Linked DNA regions of Homo sapiens. The protein of the gene in region 1 interacts with the protein of each later gene in a pairwise test. Each region holds a gene or a part of one and is shown on either strand. Other genes may lie near its edges. The genes, in order: MFSD6 and TMPRSS2.

Region 1 (3,819 bases):
ACCTTTCTCTAGTGCCTCCTTGATTAACTTAATAATGGACCTTCTGAATTCTTTTTCAGGGAAGTCAGAGATTTCTTCTTGGTTTGGATCTATTGCTGGTGCTAGTGTGATTTTGTTGGGGCAGGTTAAAGAACCTTGTTTTGTCATATTACTAGAATTGTTGTTCTGGTTCCTTCTCATTTGGGTAGGCTATGGCAGAGGGAAGGGCTGGCACTCAAGGCTGCTGTTCAATTCTTTTGTCCCACAGGGTGTTCCCTTGATGTAGTACTCTCCCTGTTTTCTGAGGGATGTGGCTTCCTGACAGCCAGGCTGTAGTGATTGTCATTTCTCTTCTGGATCTAGCCCACCCAGCAGGGCTACCAGGCTCCAGGCTGGTACTGGGGTTGTCTGCATAGAGTCCTGTGATGTGAACCATCTTTAGGTCTCTCAGCTGGATACCAGCCCAATATTTGGCCTGTCTCTCAGGTCCTCCAGGAGCAATATGCTTCCTTCAGAGGGTCTGTGTATTCTCTCAGCTTTCCTGGTATATTCCTGCAGTAGTTCTGGAGCAAAAGCATGATGCAAGTCTCCACATGCTACTCGGTCCACCTGAGTGTGAGCTGCAACCTAATCCTGCCTCCTATCTTGCCATTTTCCCAATAACAGTCTCTCCAGAACACAAGTATTTTAAAAACTAACCCAGTACCATATTCTCACTAATCAAAGATGAGTTAAAATTTGATTGCTTATTTTTATGTTTCTTACATTGAATGTTTAATTAATGATTTTAAATTTTTTTGTGATTAATAGCAAAGATATTCAAGTCCATACATTTTTCTCAAAATACAACTTTAACTACATCTTATAACTTTGGGAGAGCCATGATAGTTATTTTTATTGGTCTTTTACATGAGGCATGGACTGAGGCTGTGTAAGAGAGAGAATCCATTTAGGATTATAAAAGAACAAAAGTAAGAAAAAACAGTATTGCTCTTTCTGAGTAACTCATTGAGATTAAAATCTGTCTCTGAGGCTTCTGTAACAAGCAAGTTTTTCTCTTCACAGAAGCATTTCAGGGGCCTGAGGCTAATGCTCCGCAAAGGATAGGACACCCAAAGAAGATGAGCTCTGTTCTGGGACCAAAAAACTGAGCAAAAATATTTTCATCCTCCTGGTTGACCTTTTTCATAAAAAGTTGAGTCAGCTCATTCTCATCTACATATTAATATTTGATATAACCTCCTTTTGGTAGAACAATCTTAATAAAGGCATCCCTGGTTCAGAGAAAACTTCAGATTTCAGGTCTTGACATTTTTGTCTTTGTTTTTTGTTTTTTTTTTGAGAGGGAGTCTTGCTCGTTCCCCCAGGCTGGACTGCAGTGGTGCTATCTCGGCTCACTGCAAGCTCCACCTCCTGGGTTCACGCCATTCTCCTGCCTCAGCCTCCTGAGTAGCTGGGATTACAGGCGCCCACCACCGTGCCCGGCTAATTTTTTATATTTTTAGTAGAGATGGGGTTTCACCGTGTTAGCCAAGATGGTCTTGATCTCCTAACCTCGTGATCCACCCGCCTCGGCCTCCCAAAGTGTTGGGATTACAGGCGTGAGCCACTGCACCCGGCCATTGTTTTTTTTTTTTTTAACAAATGAAGGTAAGTCATAGAGAAGATTACCACTCACTCCCTATCCCTAGTAGCAAAATGACTGTATAGCCTTATATGTATTTGACTTAAATTTGAAAAACCTTTAGAATACCAGAGAAATTGAAAACTAATACTTCCCTAGTACCTTGTATTATAAAAGAAAACAAACAAACAAAAAACAAGAAAACCCCAAGCTACTTAAAACAATATTTTTTCTGCATAGTAGGTGGATCTCTTTAACAATAGTCCACATGAATTCATCGATACGCCACTCAGAAAATTGAGCCAAACAGACCTGTTGTATACTCTGTACCACTTCTAGGCTTCTCGGGGCATTTGTTGACTTCCCATGGCCTGAACTGTTAGGAATATTAAGAAAGAATGGAAATAATTACCTTCTTCCTCATCTGGCACTGCCAGCCACTGGATCAGGGCAAAGAGCAGTAGGATCACCAAGCAGGCCATGCCAATTCCTCGGAAGGTTGCAGCAGCCCCTATAAAAACAAACAGCACTCTATAGAGTAATTCCAAGAAATGCAGATAGCGCTCATCTAAAACCATCAGTTTTCTAAAGATCAAAGCAAAGGAAGCACAGCTTGAGACAAACCAGAGAAAAGTAGTTGGGTATTAGCTCCACATAATGGAAAAACACAGGGCTGGGTACGTGTCAAGAGACCCAGGGCTGATATTGGATCTGTCATTGATCGATTATAAAACTGCATTTATATAGGATTATCTCTCAGTGCCTTTCACCATGACTCATACAATTCAATGGTGCTCTCCTCTTCATATGAAAAGACCATTTACCCAATTATTAACTAACAGCACTATTAATCTGTAGTTGGAACAGCAGTGCTCAAATAGTGCTATAAATGCACGCATTTCCTGGGGCCCACCTTATATATTAATAGATGACTGAGTAGTTAAGATTCCTGGAGCAGAATAATCTCATTCCTATTTCAGCTCCTATGTTTCTAATAAGGAAGATATGACAAGACAGACAGATATTGTTACCATAAATGTAGTAGCATTACCAAAGCCAGCATATGGTTAGATTCTTCTGGTTCAAAATCTCCTAATGGAATAACAATGATGAATTTTATTTCCTTTAGGGTTATTATCAGCAGGTTTAAGGTACCTTATTTTAGACCAAAAGCACTCATGCTAATTCATTTGTTTGGCTCCTTTGAGGGATCTCTGTAGCATCTCATTAAGCTGATTGTCAGAGGAGTGTGCACAGTTACAGGCTGGCTCAGATCAGCTTAACAACGTAAGCACACTGCTTTACAATTATGACTACCATGAAATCTAGAAAGAGATTATGAATACTGGAATTTAGCTTTGGGCAATCTTCAGTAATAATTGGATTGTTTATTGAGGTATTGCTGGAAAAAATCATGTTTTAATAATAGAAAAGAAAAAAAAGGAGAAAGCCATTCTTACCAAAATAATTGACTAACACGCCTCCGATCATGGCACCACATCCTCTTCCCAAACCCAGGTGAAGGCCCTGCAGGATGCCCTGAGCAGATGTCCTCAGCTCAGGGGGAACGGCTGCACTGAGGTAAGAAATGCATGCTGCCCAGATGGCCGCGTGTGTCACTCCTGGAGAGGAAGAAGAGCAGGAGGGATTAGTTGGTTAGCATTTCTTAGGCTACTCTGTTTTGAAATGTGAATTATTTAACTAGGCACCTATTTTTAAGATTTGTTGTGGGAAAACATACATTAAAAATTTACCATTTTCACATTTTTAAATGTACGGTTCAGTGGCACTGAGTACACTCACAGTGTTGTGCAGCTGTCACCACCATCCATCTCCAGAACTTTTTCACCACCACAACAAAAATTCTGTACCCCTTAAACCATAACTTACACTCACCCCTTGTCCCATCCCCTGACAACCACCATTCTACTTCCTGTCTCTTGAATGTGACTCCCATTCATTTTGTTCATCTTTTCATCTGTGAATAGACATTTGTTGTTTCCTTCTGCTACTTTGATTAATGCTGCTATCAACCTGGTATGCAAGTATCTGAGTCTTTGATTTAAATTCTTTTGAGTGGCTGGGCGCAGTGGCTCACGCCTGTAATCCCAGCACTTTGGGAGGCCGAGGCGGGTGGATCACGAGGTCAGGAGATTGAGACCATCCTGGCCAACATGGTGAAACCCTGTCTCTACTAAAATACAAAAAATTAGCCT
Region 2 (3,819 bases), on another chromosome or scaffold:
AAGAAACAACAACAACATTCTCCAATTGAAAATAAAACAAGGGGGGGAATGTCCCGCTCTGACATTAGATCTGCAAGGGGAAGCACTGCTGTCCCGAAAAGACCAGGAAATCACATTCAGTCCTGTTCATCTTCAAAACAGGCATTTCCTCATTCACACAAGCTTGTACATCGCATTAACTCATTTCTGAAAGGAGCAAGACGTAAAGTAGATGGCGAGAGACAATGCTGTTTAGCGAATGCTTGCTCCTGTCATTTAAAGGACCGGGATGATGGCTCTCAATTCTGGAAAGCCAGCCACCATGAGCACTTGGGGAAATTTTCCTTTAAGTGTGAAAGAGCAACAGTGGGTGGCACTCAGGCTCCATTCCTGGCTGGCAGGGAGCTCTTCCTTCAATACAGACAGTGTCACCCACTTGAATCTCACAATGGCACACAGCTGTCCTCGCACTGTTTTGGTCCATCCTGGACTGAGAGCTGAGTCAGCCCATGAGTCACCTGCCTGGCCACCATGCAGCAGGACGATGCTGTGGCATCGTATCCGCATCCCATGACATGATGAAGTTACTGCCAAAACAAGAATCTTTTCTCCTAGTTTCTCTCCTCTGGAGATCTCAGGACACGTTTACTGGAGACTTACTTTCCAAACAACCAAGCCAACGCGAATGAAGTTAGGCTTGTAGACACTGACTCCCACCCAAGATCCAGGGGTATTCTCTGCAATGAAGTCTCCACTGACCTCACCGTGCACCATTGTGCACACACCTTCTCCTTCTCGAAGCCCCCACCTGTGACTGGTACGGTTCGAGTTGCTGGAGGTGTGAGAGGGAACAGACAGCCTCAGACTCAGTGCCCCTTCTTCAAAATCCAGACAGCACCACCACCACCATCCACGGACACATCCCAGCCAATGACCAAATCATCAAAAAGAGCCCTTTATGCCAAAATAACCGCACTAATATCACATTATACAACGAGATGTTCTATCCTCCTAAGGATAGAATGCATGACTAAATGAGTTAGCCAACAGTGGATTTCAGTGGCTGTTCAGCAGAAACTTGTTTATGTATAATCAGGTAAATTGCATACACAATGATTGGCACAAGAGTTCTACTGAGAGAGAAAGGTTGAGCGAGAAACAGAAAGATCACCTTAGGAGAGGTATTGCCTGCATCATCCAAGTTTCTTTTCCTGTGAATGACTCATTGTCCCAAAGAGATTACAAACTTTTTAGGGCAGATATCAGGTCTGGTTCTCTCTCTTTCTGTTTGTTTTTTAAATCTCACTTTGTAGCTTACAAAGACAGTATTTAAATGTTTTTATGGAGTTCTTACCACCTGTACCCCAAAAACTATTGGGGAAAAATTAATAAGCATGTTTGGCAAAGTTGAGGGATACAAGATCAATATAAAAATCTATGTGTTTTTATATACCAACAACAGACGATCGGAAATGTAAATTTGAAATACAATGCAATTTGCAGGAAAAAATATATATTTTTTGAGTTCCAAAGGCCAAATGAGTAAGATGAAATTTAGCAGAGGGCGATAAGATGCCCACACCCAGACAACACCAGCAGCCCAAGTCAGGACAGTGGGTGACCTCCCAGGAGTCCAGGTGCCTCAAGCTGAGTGCAACCTGGCATGACAGGCAGGCAGGCGGCAGAGGCCCTCAGGTCACTCCAGGCGGAGACTTCAACACCACACACAAGCCACTGGCTGAGGCTTAAAGAACTTGTCCAAGTCAATCTGTAAAATGGGGATGATACAGAAATAGGGTTGTTGCAGGGATTAAGTGAGAAAGCAAGGCCGTAGCTCAGTGCCCAACCCATGGTGAGCACTCAATAATAACATAATGATGGCAGATAAGGTTTATCTTCCAACACGTAAGAGCCGGCTATGTGGAAAAGGAATTCAGTTTATTCTGCATACATCCAAAGGACAATACCAGAATCATGATCAGAATTTCCAGAAGAGCAGGCTTGGATTCTATCTGGGGAAATCAAGGTTCCAACAATTAGAAAGTTCACATATGGCCTGGAGCTACCTTAGAATGTACCGAATTCCTCAAACCTAAAAATGTATGTTTCAAGACTGGAGGATCATTTCTCCAACATATTCCAGAACAGAATTAGGCTTGAGCATCAAGACCAGACATAGTGATCTTTCATATTACTCCCAACTCCTTATAAATGCATCATCACCAGTGAACTTGAAAATGTCAGCAAATTCTCTGTTATCAGTATCTTGCACAAAGAACTCCAAGCCCATCGTCCCTAGAAAGCATGGTCTCCCATGACCCCTGGGCTATACTGCAGTGGGGTCAGGCTGAGTGCCCCGCCAGGACAGCCCCTTGGAAAGCAATGGCCTTAAAGGGAATTTGACACTGCATTGTGCACCTCGTACAAACAAGCAATAATAAAAAGCCTCAGCTTAGTTCCATCTGCCAAGTCAGACCTCGCTTGAAAATATTTTTCTAACAAATCCAATTGTCACAACCTCTCATTCTGAGTCCCACTTGACAGCCCCGATTTTTCCACCTAGTCTGCCCTTGAGTGAACTTCCAGACTTCTGCTGCCACAACCACAAGCCAAGGTGCCCTTCAAACACTTCCTGCTTTCTTACCACAACTCTGTGCCCTAAACTCCTCCTGCCCTCCTGCCATGGATGCCCAATGGCTCAGCGCCATCCACACATAGATGTCAGAGCCCTCACCTCCCTCTCCCAGACTCACCTCCAGGAGGATGAAAAGCCTGTCTTCGAGTTTCCTGCCCTCTCAAACTTCACTCTGTTTACAACAAAAGTAACCACCCACACCCCTGCCAGAAAACCAGCCTCGACTCCCAACCAGCGCATTTCCACTCATTCAGTTCCTCTCTCCTGACCATTGCTCAGCAACCAGGAATAACCAAGTCCCAGATCAGGCTCTGCCTCCTCCTGGAGCCCAGCCTCTGTTCTAGGTCATGCTGAAGAGCTGCCTGTGTGCTCAACCAAGCTGCTACCCTGTCACAGATCCCCCTTTTGCTCCTCCTTGGGTGTCCACAGGCTCGGTGGGGCCAAGGTGGTCAATGGCCATGGGGACATCATAAGCCCCCTTCTTCACACCCAGGCCCATACCCCTGGTGCTTGCAAGTCAGGGCTTCCCAAATCACCCTTAGGGCCAGGAGGGGCCCCACAAAGGCTGACTCCATACAGGCCTCAGCTCTCAGGTACATAATGCTCCTGCACCCCAATCCTGAGGCCACGCAGTGCATCCCATATTGGAGGATCCCCTGGCAGGTGTCCTGGAAAGTAAGGAGGGGCGGGGAAGAGTAGCAAAGGCCTGGTGACTGTGGGATGAGGGACACTCAGGGAGTGCAGAGCAGGAGGGACCAGAGAGCAGAAATGCACCTGGGCCTTCAATGCTCCTGGGCTCTCTGGTTCCCCACAGGGAGCTCTCCCTGCCCTCACTCTCCCCACTAGCAAGGCCACTTTCCAAGTCTTCAGCAACCAAAACTGAACAAGCACTCCATTGACCATTCACCTTTCCTTTCTACCTCAATGTCCAAGGCTTAGATCTGATCAGTGCTCCCCAAACCCAGAATTTTCAAGAGGGCTTAGAAAAATAAATAAATAAATAAGATGCCTGGGCCCCATTCTCAGAGTCTGATGTAATAATTGGGACCAAGGCAATGATCCCATATTATTACGAAGATCCCCTAGGGAATCTTGCCGCAGATTCAGGTGGAAAAGGGTAAGAGTTATCAGCCAGACTTTTGGTTTACATTTCCTGGTAGGGGGACAACACACTCGGATGATGATGATCGTGGTGGTGGTGGTTA

What was found.
Region 2: the proteins of MFSD6 (region 1) and TMPRSS2 interact in binary tests that used the Homo sapiens proteins (3 or more experiments, as listed by UniProt).

The regions. Positions count from the first base shown.
Region 1 is NC_000002.12:190,488,063-190,491,881, reverse strand, and holds part of MFSD6 (major facilitator superfamily domain-containing protein 6), read right to left. Parts: intron 3,226-3,819; coding exon 3,064-3,225; intron 2,115-3,063; coding exon 2,016-2,114; intron 1,269-2,015; exon of another isoform or gene 1,064-1,268; coding exon of another isoform or gene 1,045-1,063; intron 1-1,044.
Region 2 is NC_000021.9:41,501,635-41,505,453, forward strand, and holds part of TMPRSS2 (transmembrane protease serine 2), read right to left. Parts: intron 1-3,819. UniProt on the Homo sapiens protein: Plasma membrane-anchored serine protease that cleaves at arginine residues. Participates in proteolytic cascades of relevance for the normal physiologic function of the prostate.